2 separate regions of the Homo sapiens genome follow, and region 1 is linked to region 2. Evidence: fine-mapped expression QTL. Tissue or cell type: naive CD4 T cells. Region 2 holds a variant in brackets; the other region holds the start of a gene. All regions are shown on one strand. Distances are from middle to middle.

Region 1 (6,798 bases), 75 kb after region 2:
TACCATTCCTTTTACATGTATTAGCATATTTATTCTTCACAATAATATATAGTGGGGAGCAGGTGATTACTGTTAAAGTATAGAAACTGGTACAGAGAGGCTCAATACCTTGTGGCCAAAACGATCTTTTAAAAAACACAGATCGAGTTAACCTGCTTATAACTATTCAGTGGCGTATTACTGGTCTCTGCAAAAGACCCATATCCTTAACAAGGACCTAAAAGCCCACAATGATTTGGTTGCTGTTGCTACTGACTTCTCTAAAGTAGACTTGTACCACTTTTCTCTCTCTGTATCCTATCTTTCAGGACCTCAAAGGTATCTTTCTCTCTTCTTCCTTAGTATCTTGGCACGTTGTTGTTCTTTTTTACCCATTGTCTCGTACCACTCATTCCATTATGCCTAGTGAAAGTCTGATAATTCTGTAGATCTTAACTCTACTTCTGGATGTCTTTCAATTTCCAGATAAAATGAAGTCCTCCTACTGAGCCCACTCATAGTCTTATGAACTTACCTTCATTACCCCTAGTAAATATTTTGACATGTATTTGTGTAATAATTTGATTAATTAATACTTGATTGTATGAGGGCACAGACTATACACACACACACACACACAAACATATATATATATATTTTTTTGAGGCAGGGTCTCGCTCTTGTCACCGAGGCTGGAGTACAGTGGTGTGATCACAGCTCACCATAGCCTCAACCTCCTGGGCTCAAGTGATCCTCCCACCTCAGCCTCCCAAGTAGCTGGAACCACAAGTGTGTGCTACCATGCCTGGCTAACTTTATTTTTGGTAGAGATGGGGTCTTGCTATGTTGTCCAGGCTGGTGTGAAACGCCTGTGCTTGAGTGATCCTCCCACCTTGGCCTCCCAAACTGTTGGGATTACAGGTGTGAGCCACTGCACCTAGCTGATATTTTCACTCACCATTGTATCCCTAGCAACTTGGATAGTGCTGACACATATCAAGCACGCAAGAATGACTTAAATTTCTAAATGGATTATCTATTTTAGTCATAAGATACATGAATTGGCATTAAAGTTTTCAAGAACCTCTATCAATATAATGTGAGGCTAGTCAATTATCCAAAAAGTATTCTCCTAAAACCTAAAAAGTAAGAAATTAGTAAAATTTTCAATAAGTAACCAAGGACAAAACTAGATTGTTCTATAAAATTTTAAAAACTAACTTTAAGACAAAAATTAGTAGGATGTAGTTACTGGGAAATTAAACAAGTTGGGAAATACAAACAGGGTGGAAGATGATAGTTACCCTACACATCTCACCAACACTGTCTAGGATTACAGACAAATGATTTTACCTCTTTCCTTAATCAAAACAAATTGTTTAGGGAGAATGTTTTAAAGGAATAGTCCCAGCCGGGCGCGGTGGCTCACACCTATAATCCCAGCACTTTGGAGGCTGAGGCTGGCAGATCACTTGAGATCAGGAGTTTGGGACCAGTCTGGCCAACATAGTGAAACCCCGTCTCTACTAAAAATACAAAAATTAGCTGGGTGTGGTGGCACATGCCTGTAATCCAGCTACTCGGGAAGCTGAGGCGGGAGAATCACTTGAACTCGGGAGATGAAGGTTGCTGTGGGCCAAGGTCGCGCCACTGCACTCCAGCCTGGGTAACAGAGTGACAGAGGGAGACTCTGTCTCAAAAAAAAAAAAAAAAAAAAAAAAAAAGGAACAGTCCCTTTAAGAGTGACTAAAGATGTAAAGAATAAAGCTAAACCAAGCCAGCTACATAACTATAGAGGTATAAATGTAAAATTAACATTCATTGATTATTTACTATGTGTCAGGGATGATCTATGAGCATTTTTTAATAGACTACTTTACACTGAATATGAGCATTTATTAACTCATGCTTTTTCAAATCAACTCTATGATGTAGTTACAATTATTATCTCTATTTTACAAGTGAGAAGATCACATAAGTTTTAAGTAGGCAGAGTCAAGATTTGAACCCAGGCTAAGGTTAAGAGCTGGTGCTCTTAACTATAAGAGGACAGTAGTTAAAATAGATATCTTCCCTAATATGTGTGTAAATACTGAAGATTTTTTTATTAATACAAATTGTTTTCTTATCTAGACTATTTCACTAGCCCTCTAGTTAGTTTCCTTGACTCTAATTTTGCTCTCCTTAAATCCATTTTCCACACTGCATCCAGTGATCTGCTTAAATCTTAAATGGACTTGTACAAAATTAAGGAAAACCTACTCAGCACGGCAAACAAGGCTATGATTCATGCTTAATGACCCCAGCCTTCTGGCCTCTCCGATGTCCTTTTCTGCTACTCCCACCCTAGACTTTATATGTCTTAAAGTCTAATACAAACTCAGTACTTGTAGTGTCCACTACACACTAACCATCCCCACTTACACTATGTATTTTAAGAACTATGGATCTTTTTGTTCGCTTTTCTGAAATGCCCCTTGTTCCTGGCATTTTCGTCTCAATTAAGCATCTTTCTGGATTAAATTTTATTTTCTCCAGGAATCCTCTTCTGAAACCCTTAGAAGTGACCCTCCTCTACTGGTACTTAGCCATCCTTTATTGAAATTACCTGTTTATGAGCCAGTAACCTTTATTAAGCTCTTTGAGAAGAGGGATTCTTTCTTTCTCTTTTACCTACATCCCGCACAACCCAGCTCCCCCTCCGTCTCCCCCACCTCCATGCACAATTCCTGGCACGTGTTAACTGTTCAGTAAATGTTGAACTTTTGAACTTTACTGGAAATCAAGAAACACTGAGTTTTAGCCTCAGTTTTGCTCACTATGTGATTTTAGATATTTTATTCTCTGTGCTTATCGTGTGTATCTATATACAACTTAATCCTAAAGTTCCATCGTATAAAAAATTCTACAACTTTTTATTTTGCTCTGTATGTGACAGTACCTGGTATTTAAAAACAATTCTCTACATCAACTTAAAAAATTAACATTTGATGATTATAATTAACTTCTAAAAAACTGAAAGATGAAACACATCAATGCCTTTTCTTTCCCCCCTGTACTGCTACCTGAAAACATCGGAATTTGCTGTGGAACGAACAAGATTTCTTCTAAGAAATTACCCCCTACCACCATGACTACATAAAATAAGGTAATTCCCAGCAAGAATATTATGCAGATACTAAAAAGAAAACATGCTAGGCATGGTGGCTCACGCCTGTAATCCCAGCACTTTGGGAGGCCGAGGCGGGTGGATCGCCTGAGGTCGGGAGTTCGAGACCAGCCTGGCCAACATGGTGAAACCCCGTCTCTACTAAAAATACAAAAATTAGCTGGGCATGGTGGCGCACGTCTGTAATCTCAGCTACTCGGAAGGCTGAGGCAGGAGAATCGCTTGAACCCGGGAGGCGGAGGTTGCAATGAGCCGAGATAGCGCCACTGCACTCCAACTCTAGCTTGAGCAACAAAGCGAGACTCCGTCTCAAAAAAAAAAAAAAAAAACAATGACACGAGGGAAATGCTTACAATGCTCAATGAAAAAATGAAAAGAAAGGTTATAAAGTTTTAATATACGATTTGATCTTTTGAAAATAATGGATATATAACTTAAACGGAAATGTATCATTAAATATAGCAACAGCGTCTTCCAAAAAATTTCAAAATCGGGCTTAATGCCAATTACACGATCATAATCCAAAAACCCTTAACTGAAGCAAAGACAGTGATTTGTAACATCTGAACTGTGTGAAAGGGGTGGGGGTGATTCAAACAAGTGTCATCACCTTGTCCAATGATGAAGGAGAACGTGTATCAGTTCTGCATTGTGAAATTCTCAGTATGAGAGCGTGTAGTGGCTAAGAAAAGCAGTGGGCGAATTAGGAAACAAAGAGAAAAGCCAGCGACATCACCAGTTCTGGCCTCCTTCCCACCGGAGGAAAGGGGAGAAGGCGGGTAGTCATCAATTCCAGGTCCAGCCTAAGTTCTGGGTCCCCGGCCCCAGCGAGAGCCTCGCCTCGCCTCGCGCGCCTGCGCGGAGCGGGCTGGCTTCCTGAACGGCCCTCGCCTCTTCACCACCAGGGCCGTCCACCAGAAGTTTCTAAACGGGTGAGAGGCGACAACGCAGTGCAGCTGGGTTAAAGGAAGGAGGCTGGTTTATCCTCCGCACTTACTTGGTACTCGATCTCCAGCGAGGCCTTCAGGGGCATGGGCTGGTAGAAGCACTCCTTCTGGCCGGCGGGAAGGGTAAAGGTGAAGTCGCTATCGAGGGAAGGTGTGAAGCCGGCCGCCCCAGGCAGCAGCACCGGAGGCAGAGCGGCCAGAAGGAGCACGGGGAAGGGCAGCCAGATCTTGTCGCCCATCCCTGCTGGGGCGATCCCGGGCTGAAAGAGGCGTCAGGTACTGTTGTCTCCGCTCCGCGTTTCCTCTCTGGACTCCTCGTGGTTGACAGGGAAATCTGGAGTCTGAAGAAACTCCAGGTGGCGGCCGCGGCGGCGGCGAACACTCCCTCCGAAAGAGAAGCGCAGTTCTCCAAAGGGTAGGGACTCTGGGCGGGGCTAGCAGTCCTATTCCGCAACCGCCTCAGTCTCGGCCCCCTCAGGCCAGGCGTGAGCGCCGCCCGCCTCTCCCCCTGACGGCCTCCGGTTCCCATGGCTTCCCCCACCAATGGGCATCATGGCGGTAATTGTGGGAAATGTAGTCCCGGGCGGGCTCCGCTAGTGGGCTCGGGCGCGCTCGCCGACCACGATCCCCGGCAAGCCCCGCGCCTTCGGCGGCGCCTCACGCAGTCTGCGCCGGGGCGGGGCAGTGACCGGGTAGGCGCGTCCCAACGGCTCCCGCGGCGGTTCGAATTCTGTGCTGCCGGGGTTCGCTGGTTCTCCGAGTTGTGTCCGAGGCTTCCACGCGCAGGGGCCCGGGAAAGGGTCAGAGGCTTCCTAACGCAGACTCGAGTGCGAAGCGCGCAGTCGCCGGGTGGGTCTCTCCCCAGCGACGATTTGGGTGGTGAGCGACTGCGCCTTGGCGTGGGGAAACCGGCTTACCTGGGGGAGTTCTGTTCCTTTCCCTCCCGGCACCTTGGATGCGCTGGGACTGGTCCTCGTGGTTGCTGAGCATGCTGCTCTGAACGGTTGTATTTTATTTGATGAAAAATAGGAGGCCGGGCGCAGTGGCTTACGCCTGTTACCTCAGCACTTTGGGATGTCGAGGCGGAAGGATTGCTTGAGCCCAGGAGTTCGAGGCCAGCCTTGGCAATATGGCGAGCCACTGTCTCTATAAAATTAAAAAAAAAAAAAAAAAGAGGAAACTGTCACTTCCGTCCCCCACCCCCGCCCCCGCTTCTTTCAGACGGATGTAAGATTAGCTGTGTCAAGCGATCTTGAGACAGGAGACTACTACATAAAGTTATGACTTCTTTCCAAAATGAGGAATCTTTTTCGACTACAGCCCATTGTATCACATACATAGGGTATAAAAGAACACTTGTCCTTCGTTTGATGGGTGTGCGTGTGCAAACCTACAAACACATTGTTAATTAGGGCCGAAAGATGATGTTGTTAAGGTCGGTGAGTAGGATGATGTGCTTTTCTAGGTATGCATAGTCAGTGAAGATAGCCTTTTTTGGGTAACTACTGTAAATTGAAGTTAAGGACATTCATTTGACAGTAAATGTCCCACTAGGAAAATGAAAACATTTTAGTATCAAATATATTCATTGCTACTGCAGAAGAGTTAGGGAGTTCTTTCTTTTTTTTTTGAGACCGAGTCTCACTCTGTCGCCCAGGCTGGAGTGCAGTGGCGCGATCTCGGCTCACTGCAACCTCCGCCTCCCAGGTTCAAGCAATTCTCTGCCTCAGCCTCCCGAGTAGCTGAGATTACAGGCGCTCGCCACCACCCCCGGCTAATTTTTTTGTATTTTTAGTAGATACGGGGTTTCACCATCTTGGCCAGGTTGGTCTTTAACTTTTGACCTCGTGATCCACCCGCCTTGACCTCCCAAAGTGCTGGGATTACCGGCGTGAGCCACCGCGCCCGGACTGGGAGTTATTTCTTGCATGGCAATACACAGATGTTGAACTAAAACCTGATTTAAGATGAAATATATAGTACCAAATGGTATTATAGAATTTGCCCAATTTTCTCTACCCTTTTCTCCTTCACCATCCTACAGAGAGCTAGAGATGTTGAATAGGTAAAGCAGGATGGGGACCTGATTTATTGACTTGTCTGCGAGAGTCTTGTCACTTAAGCAGAAGCAAATTTGTGGAAACAAAAAAGGGAAAGAGGATAGAACCAGTTTGTCTATTAAGATTACATAGTATCTCATTTAATTTCCTGCCACTTTCTTTCCATAAGGTGGGAGTTTTCTTTTTAATCTTCCTCCCTACATCTGAGAATTTTTGAGTGGGGAATAAATGTAACATACCATTCTAACTGGATGAGGGAAGGAAGGACAGTTTAGTATTCGTTAATTCATTCAAAATATTGAGCTTCTCTAAGTACATTGCGGTCCTGAACGTAATGCACAGGACTTTTAACCTTTTGGAACTTGGGATGGGATCAGAATGCTAAGAAGGGCGTTGAAGGAGATGCTACAGTGAAAAAGGTAAATGGGATCTGAAAGAGGAATGTAATTTTAAGATTGCGCAGAAAGCTCTGTAGTAGTGGAGATTATAAAGCTTTAGTTTTTTATTGTATTAATTACAATAATAAAATGTGATGCTTTATTGTGATTTTTATATGCAAAGAAATTTAGTAGTTTCACAACCCTAGAGATACTCATCCACTGAAGAAACAAAAGCTTTTCTTCATTTCTATGAGTTGACCTGC
Region 2 (8,156 bases):
TTTATGCTTTCTGTCCTTTAGGTTCAACCCTGGTTCTCTTTGACATTCTACTTTCAGGGAAACCTTAACCAGAAAGAAGGCAACGAGTCTCAGGCTTCATTTTACATACCTGTCTCAAGAGATAAAAGAGAATTCCTTCTTCATAGCTTTAATGCAGTGCCAAGCTTAAGCAGATTACCTGTTGCTTCCCTTATACCTGGGCCTTACTTTGGCCCTGTTTGGCCTCATGAATTTGACTATATCTGTATGAAAGTTTTCACCAAAAATAGCACTTTTCTTAGGTTATATTATATCCTTCACATGCTATTAACCCACATATTTACTACTTTTCCCAGGGAAGGGAAGAAATTGTGGGCATGGGAAAGATGGCAACTAAGAATTGAGATAGTTCTTTATTTAGTTCACTAGGAGAACAGATTGAGGAATGGATTGGGAAGAATTAATCCATTTTCCCTAAACCACACTATTTCTGAATTAAACATCCAGTTTTCAACTTCTTGAATCAGGGTCTTACTTATTCTGGGGTAGTAAACCAAGAAAGAGTTACTGGCTTGAACACTTGGTCTCAAGGGAAGAAACTTATTTGTCCAGGCAATCTCTTTCAAGATGTATATGACTAGCAGTGATCCAGTGGTAGTGACTATGAGCCCTCTCTCCCAATCTTTTTATTGAGTTAAAATACATGTAACAAAATTTACTATCTTAACCTTTTTTTTTTTTTTTTTTTTTTTTTTAAAAGGAGATAAGGTCTCACTCTGTTTCCCAGGCTGGAGTGCAGTGGTGTGATTCCAGCTCACTGCAGTCTCGAACTCCTGAGCTCAAGTGATCCTGCAGCTATGTGCCATCACACTTGGCAAATTTTTTAAAAATTTTCTGTAGGAATGTGGTCTTGCCATGTTGCTCAGGCTGGTTTTTTTTTTTTTTTTTTTTTTTTTTTTTGAGACAGGGTCTCCCTGTTACCCAGGCTGGAATGCAGTGGTGCAGTCACAGCTCACTGCAGCCTCGACCTCCCAGGCTCACGCAATTCTCCCATCTCAGCTTCCTAAGTAGCTGGGACTATAGGCACATCCCACTATGTCTGGCTGATTTCAAAGAAATATTTTGTAGAGCCTGGATCTTGTGTTGCTTAGGCTGGTCTTGAACTCCTGGCCTCAAGCACTCCTCCCGCCTTGGCCTCCCAAAGAGCTGAAGTTACAGGTGTGAGCCACAATGCCTGGCCCGTCTTAACCAATTTTCAGTGTACAGTTCACTGATATTAAATACATTGAGCCGTCTCCATAACACTTTTTTACCTTGTTAAACTGAAACTATATGCCCGTTGTATAACAACTACCTCTTTCTCCCTCCCCTCAATCCCTGGCTGCTTAATCAGGAGAGGCAGTTTGAATCTGAGATGAGGTGAGATGAGGGATATAGCTTTGTAGCTACTGACCAGAGTCAACTGAGTACCCAAAAGGAGTACTGATTCCCCAATCAAAAAGTCTGTTTCTCATGGCACTTTAGTATATGAACTCAGAAGAATGTTTGCAATATGTATAAGAAAGGGTTATAACATATAAGATGCTCTTGAAAATTATCATGACAGTGATTAACATTTCATTTAAAAATGGGCAAAGAACATCAACTGCAGTTTCCAGAAGACTTAGAAATTGTTAATAGGCTGGGCGTGGTGGCTCATGCTTATAATCCCAGCACTTTGGGAGGCCAAAGCGGAGGGATTACTTGAGCTCAGGAGTTTGAGACCTGCTCCCATTCCTACTAAAAATTATTTTTAAAAAATCAGGTGGGCGTGGTGGCATGGTGTGTGCCTGTAGTCCCAGCTGCTTGGGAGGCTGAAGTGGGAGGATCCCTTGAGCCCGGGAGATTGAGGCTGCAGTGACCCATGATTGCACCACTGCACTTCAGCCTGGGTGACAGAGAGAGACCCTGTCTCAAAAAAAAAATTGTTAACAAACCTATGAGAAACATGCTTTTTTACTACTACTAATAGAGTTGTAGATAGAAATAGAGTGTGTGTTGTCAAACAGCAAAAGAATGATAATTCTTCCCGTTGGTGAAGGTGTGGTGAGAGTGTGAGTTGGTACCTTTTGGGAGAATAATTTGATAATACCTATGATATTTAAAAATACACATATGAGGATGGGGGGATATGGGTATATAAATGAAATAATTTTAGCCATGAAATTTTATGGGCCAGGCACGGTGGCTCACGCCTGTAATCCCAGCACTTTGGAAGGCCGAGGCGGGCAAATCACGAGGTCAGGAGTTCAAGACCAGCCTGGCCAACATAGTGAAACCCTGTCTTTGCAAAAATATGAAAAAAATTAGCCGGGCATGGTGGTGGGCGCCTGTAGTCTCAGCTACTTGGGAGGCTGAGGCAGGAGAATTGCTTGAACCCGGGAGGCAGAGGTTGCAGTGAGCCAAGATCGCACCACTGCACTTCAGCCTGGGTGACACAGTGAGACTAGCTCAAAAAAAAAAAGGAAATTATAATTGAAACTGGGTGTCACTTGATGGTTCATTATACTTGTTTTGTCTACGTTTGTAATTTTCTATTATAAAAAGGAAAAATATACGTAGTATTTTATTATATATATATTAATTCTCTTTATTATTTATCCTATATAGTAGTTGGGAATGTAGAAGAATGAAGTTTATATTACTGCTTATGTTAAAACATTGGAAACATCCTAAATGTTCCTCCATTGGGTAATGGTTGGAAAGCAGTTTAGCAGCTGATGAAAAGATTATTTTATGTGCTTTTATTTTATATTTACGTAACAGATGGAAATTACATTGTTCAAGATACATTGTTATGTGAGAAAATTTATAGAATAATATATATAATGTCCTATATTTTATTAAAAACATTTATATGAATTATAAATATGTAGTACAAATAAGAATCAGGAGATTAACTTTTTTTATGGGAGGAGATTGCATGGAGCATTTTCATTTTTAACTATATGTTTCTATATTATTCTAACATCAGCATGTTTACCTTTGTAATCAGAAAGGAAGTAATAAATTCTAAAATTAGAAAAATTAATTTGACTTCTAATAAAGGTCACATTCTAGCAAAGAGGGAAGTAATCAGTGATAGTAATGGGGTGGGGGAAACTGCATAGAGGAAAACCCTTAGGGGAGGAAAATGTGCAACGATGTTTATCCTACTTACGTTTGAGTTGTGACATTATGGGTAATTTACTCTTTTCTTGCTTTGTTTTCTGTAAGATTTTTTTGGGCAGAGAAATTTTAAAAGAAGATACTGCTTTTACACGTTATTTATGTATGTATTTTTTGGTTTTTGTTACAGGTTGTCTAGGCTGGAGTGCAGTGGTGAAGTCATGGCTCACTGAAGCCTCTACCTCCTGGGCTCAAGTGATCCTCCCACCTCAGCCTCCTGAGTAGCTGAGACCACAGGCGTATGCCACTACACCCAGCTTTTTTTTTTTTTTTTTTGTAGAGACAAGGTCTCACTGTGTTGCCCAGGCTGGTCTCAAATTCCTAGGCTCAAGTGATCCTCCTGCCTCAGCCTCCCAAAGTGCTAGGATTACAGGTGTGAGCCACCATGCCTGGTACAAATGATCTCTCTATTAATGCAGTTTTATATAGGATTTATGTTTATGTGGGTAAAAGGTTGATGTGTATTTGTCTTAAATGTGAATGAAAGTAGAGTCTATTTTTTACTTAAAGCAAAACAGATGATTTGTGCTTAGAGACATTAGATTAAAAATGTACCCCGGGCGCTGTGGCTCAGGCCTGTAATCCCAGCACTTTGGGAGGCCGAGGCGGGTGGATCACAAGGTCAGGAGATCAAGACCATTCTGGCCAACATGGTGAAACCTTGTCTCTACTAAAAATACAAAAATTAGCTGGGCGTGGTGGCATGCACCTGTAATCCCAGCTATCCGGGAGGCTGAGGCACAAGAATTGCTTGAACCCAGGAGGTGGAGGTTGCAGTGAGCTGGGATCGTGCCACTGTACTCCAGCCTGGTGACAGAGCAAGACTCCATCTCAAAAAAAAAAAAAAAAAAGTAGATAAAGATGAAAAGTTAAACTCTTTAAATATTGGTTAGATAAAAAAATTAACTCCTTAAATATAGGCGTTTCTTGACTTGAACTATATAAATTCTGCATAATCTTTCTGCCGTTTATGTATCATGCCCTATGCAGAGATTGAGGATACAAGTGTGAATAAGAGACAGACATTCTCGGCC[G/T]GGCGCGGTGGCTCACGCCTGTAATCCCAGCACTTTGGGAGGCCGAGGCAGGCAGATCACGAGGTCAGGAGATCGAGACCAAGGTGAAACCCCGTCTCTACTAAAAATACAAAAAGTTAGCCGGGTGTAGTGGCGGGCGCCTGTAGTCCCAGCTACTCGGGAGGCTGAGGCAGGAGAATGGCGTGAACCTGGGAGGCGGAGCTTGCAGTGAGCCGAGATAGCGCCACTGCACTCCAGCCTGGGTGACAGAGCGAGACTCCGTCTCAAAAAAAAAAAAAAAAAAGAGACAGACATTCCCTGTTTGGGGGGAGGTTAGTGGGTTATATTGAAGTGGGCCGAAGACTGAAAAGGGGAGGAGACTATAGGAGTGGAGACATTAAGCGTGTATAACTTTACCCCGAGGTTTGCTTGCAAATGGGAGGAAAGAGTAGGAAGTGGTGGGAACGGAGCACAAAGAATCAAGAGAATTTAGTTATTCTACCCCCCATCCCCAAGATCCTTGCAAGTTTTTAAGCATAGTTGAATGCTAATGGGAGGGTGCCCAGAGAGAAGATTTATTGAATGCTGGCTCTGGTTTGTATCCTATAATAAACTTCATCAAGTTATAATCTGTTTTGCAGTTGTAGTTTCCTCATGTAAAAAGGGATCTGTAAAATCTCATCTGCAAAAATATCTCTAAAGCAGTGATCTGAGTATTAAATTACCTCTATATATCTACTGCCTGGCACAGTATGTGGCTCATAATAGGGACCCAAAAATGATTTGTGAATGAATATGTTGAATGTTGTTTGTGTGTGTGTGTGTTTTTTTTTTGAGACCAGAGTCTTGCTCTTTTCACCCAGGCTGGAGTGCAATGCTGCGGTCTCGGCTCACTGCAACCTCCACCTCCCGGGTTCAAGCAGTTCTCCTGCCTCAGCCTCCTGAGTAGCTGGGATTACAGGTGCCAGCCATCACGCCCGGCTAATTTTTGTATTTTAAGTAGAGACGTGGTTTGGCCATGTTGACCAGGCTGGTCTCAAACTCCTGACCTCGTGATCTGCCCGACCCGTTCTCCCAAAGTGCTGGAATTACAGGCGTGAGCCACCATGCCCGGCCATGAATGTGTTGAATGTTTAATGTAGGGTTAGGGACTTGGTAATCTCAGTAATTTTTTCCTGGAGGTTTGACTGTGAATGGAAGGGAAAAAATGAGGAGGTGGTGGGAAGGGGGCATAAGGAATCAAGGGTAACTATAATTAGGTTAGGTCTCATTTGAGACACAGCACACCAGAAATATTAGGAGAAGCAGGGCATAAACACTAGGAGATGGAAAAATAAAAAAATGTTTGATACCTTATGACCTAAGGATGTGCTATGCAGCAGGAGTAGTACAGTGGAGAGTAAGACAGAGACAGACCTTGCCATCCTGAAAGAAGGGGATAATTTATTGAAATAATAGCAAAGCATATGAAACTGGGAATGTTTGCAATTTTTATTTTTGTACAGTTTCTACTTTGGAATTCTAGGTCTTAACGCAGACCTGCCATGGCATTCTACTGAGGTCATTTTTCACCCATGATTGATTAATTGTTCAGGCTTTGGCTATTTTTTTTTTTTAACTGAAGGGATGCAAAATCCCTCAAGTGAACACTGAACTTAAAGCCTTTTTTTTTTTTTTTTGAGACAGACTTTTGCTTTTGTTGCCCAGGCTGGAGTGCAATGGTGCGATCTTAGCTCACTGCAACCTCCACCTCCTGGGTTCAAGACATTTTCCTGCCTCAGCCTGCCAGGTAGCTGGGATGACAGGCATACGCCACCACACCAGGCTAATTTTGTATTTTTAGTAGAGACGGGTTTTTTCTCCATGTTGGTCAGGCTGGTCTTGAACTCCCAGCCTCAGGTGATCTGCCCACCTCGGCCTCCCAAAGTGTTGGGATTACAGGCGTGAGCCACCGCATCCTGCCCCTTAAAGCTTTTTTCAAAGTTGATTGCTAATAGAGTTATTCCCATACTGTGAAGCCGTTAAATTGTTTCAAAATCTGGAGAAAGAGGATTCTTACCCTCTCCTTGAGCATCCCTGATGATAATTCATTGTGATTCTTCCTGCATTTTTACTTCTGTTCTCTTGCACTGATCTTGTCAAACATTTAAACTTTTTAACCCCTCTAATTATACTACCAAAAGTGCCTTCTCCTCACAGCTGACTATGGCACAGAAAAAACAATGTTAGATAAAATTGCTTTGTGCCTTAGCATGAATCAAGGCAGCGGCATCAAACTGTACTTGTATTCTTCATTGTGTACTAACGGTAAAAAATATAAACACACACACGTACCCCCAAACCTTATTTCACTTAAGAATGTTTTTTGTTTGTTTGTTTGTTTTTGAGATGTAGTTTTGCTCTGTTGCCTAGGCTGGAGTGCAGTGGTGTAATCTTGGCTCATTGCAACGTCCGCCTCCCAGGTTCAAGCGGTTCTCCTGCCTCAGCCTCCCGAGTAGCTGGGATTACAGGCACGCGCCACCATGCCTGGCTAATTTTGTATTTTTAGTAGAGATGGGGGGTTTTGCTATGTTGGCCAGGCTTGTCTTGAACTCCTGGCCTCAAATGATCCACCTGCCTCGGCCTTCCAAAATGCTGGAATTACAGGCATGAGCCACCGTGCTGGCCAGGTTTTTAATATGTGTGATAAAATAGAAATGGCATAAGGCACTTGTGCCATTGTTTGAGTTGCCAGCTGAACTAGCAGCTTTTTCATGGAACACCATTTTTACTTGAAACAGCCACTTAGTTCTGTATAAGGCAGGTATTTTCTTGAAGTGACAATCTACGTTTTATATTGACCTTAATTACCATTTTTTTTTTCGTTTGTTCTTGTGAATTCAAGTTAGCATCTTGTGTCTGTCCTTCCTTCCATTTTTCTCTTTTCTTTTCTTCTTTTCTTTTGACAGGTTCTCTCTCTGTTGCTCAGGCTGGAGTGCAGTGGCACAATCACAGCTCACTGCAGTCTCGACCTCCTGGCCTCATATAGTCCTCCCACCCCAGACTCCTGAGTAGCTGGGACCACAGGCACGTGCCACAATGCCCGGCTAATTTTTATTTTTTAATTTTTTTAGAGACATTCTCCCTTTGTTGCCCAGGCTACTCTTGAATTCGGGGTCCTCCTGCCTCAGCCTCCCAAAGTGCTGGGATTACAGGCGTCAGCCATGCTGCACCTGGCCTGTGTCATTTCTTTGAAACAGTTGAAACAGTTTTGCTCCTACATACTTCCTTTATGCTATTATTGCCAAATATATTACATTTCTATATATTATGGGTCTAACAATACAATTATGTACATATTGTTTTATATACTTGCTTTGGAGGGAATATGCATTTATGCTGTCTTTTATAATTACTTTTGTTGGTATTCTTTGTGTGTGTGTGTGTGTATGTGTATGTACATGTATTTGAATTTCCTTCTGGGTTTACTTACTTTCAATCGTAGTAGTATTCATTGTAAGATGTCTCTGCTAATAACAAATTCAGTTTTTGTTTATCTGGGAGTTTGTATTTCACCTTCATTTTTGAAAGACAGTTTTGCTGGATATAAGATTCTCTGGTGACAGCACCCACTCCCTGCAGCCTGCTTACTTTGAATATGTCATCTCACTGCCTTCTGGCCTTTATTGTTTCTGATGAGAAGTCAACTGTTAATCTTATTGGGGTTTCCCTGTACGTGATATATTGTGTTTCTCTTGTTGCTTTCAAGATTTTTTTTTTTTTTTTTTTTGCCTTTCAGCATTTTTACTATGATGTGGCTGGGTGTAGATCTCTTTGCATTTATCCTACTTGGAATTTGTTGAGCTGCTTGGATGTGTAGATAATGTTTTTCAGCAAATTTGGGAAGGTACCAGTTATTTCTTTGGATATCTCTAAAATGTATTTCTTTCAAACTGAAACACTCCGTACCCATTAAAC

The links. PIP is the estimated chance that this variant, and not a neighbour inherited with it, causes the effect.
Region 1: it holds the start of CCDC18, and the variant in region 2 is fine-mapped to the expression of CCDC18 in naive CD4 T cells (Schmiedel 2018, PIP 0.95).

The regions. Positions count from the first base shown.
Region 1 is chr1:93,175,909-93,182,706 of GRCh38, forward strand. It overlaps CCDC18 (coiled-coil domain containing 18), which reads left to right and starts at 4,816. Exons shown (of 29, transcript NM_001378204.1): 1 at 4,816-4,944. It overlaps TMED5 (transmembrane p24 trafficking protein 5), which reads right to left and starts at 4,505. Exons shown (of 4, transcript NM_016040.5): 1 at 4,146-4,505. The coding sequence starts at 4,334. RefSeq lists enhancers at 3,886-4,035, 4,906-5,115 and a silencer at 4,566-4,845.
Region 2 is chr1:93,100,659-93,108,814 of GRCh38, forward strand. All of the region lies in intron 1 of MTF2 (metal response element binding transcription factor 2), which reads left to right. Among named protein-coding and RNA genes, the nearest start is that of MTF2, 25 kb to the left of the region's middle. The variant G/T (reference allele first, on the strand shown) is at 4,221.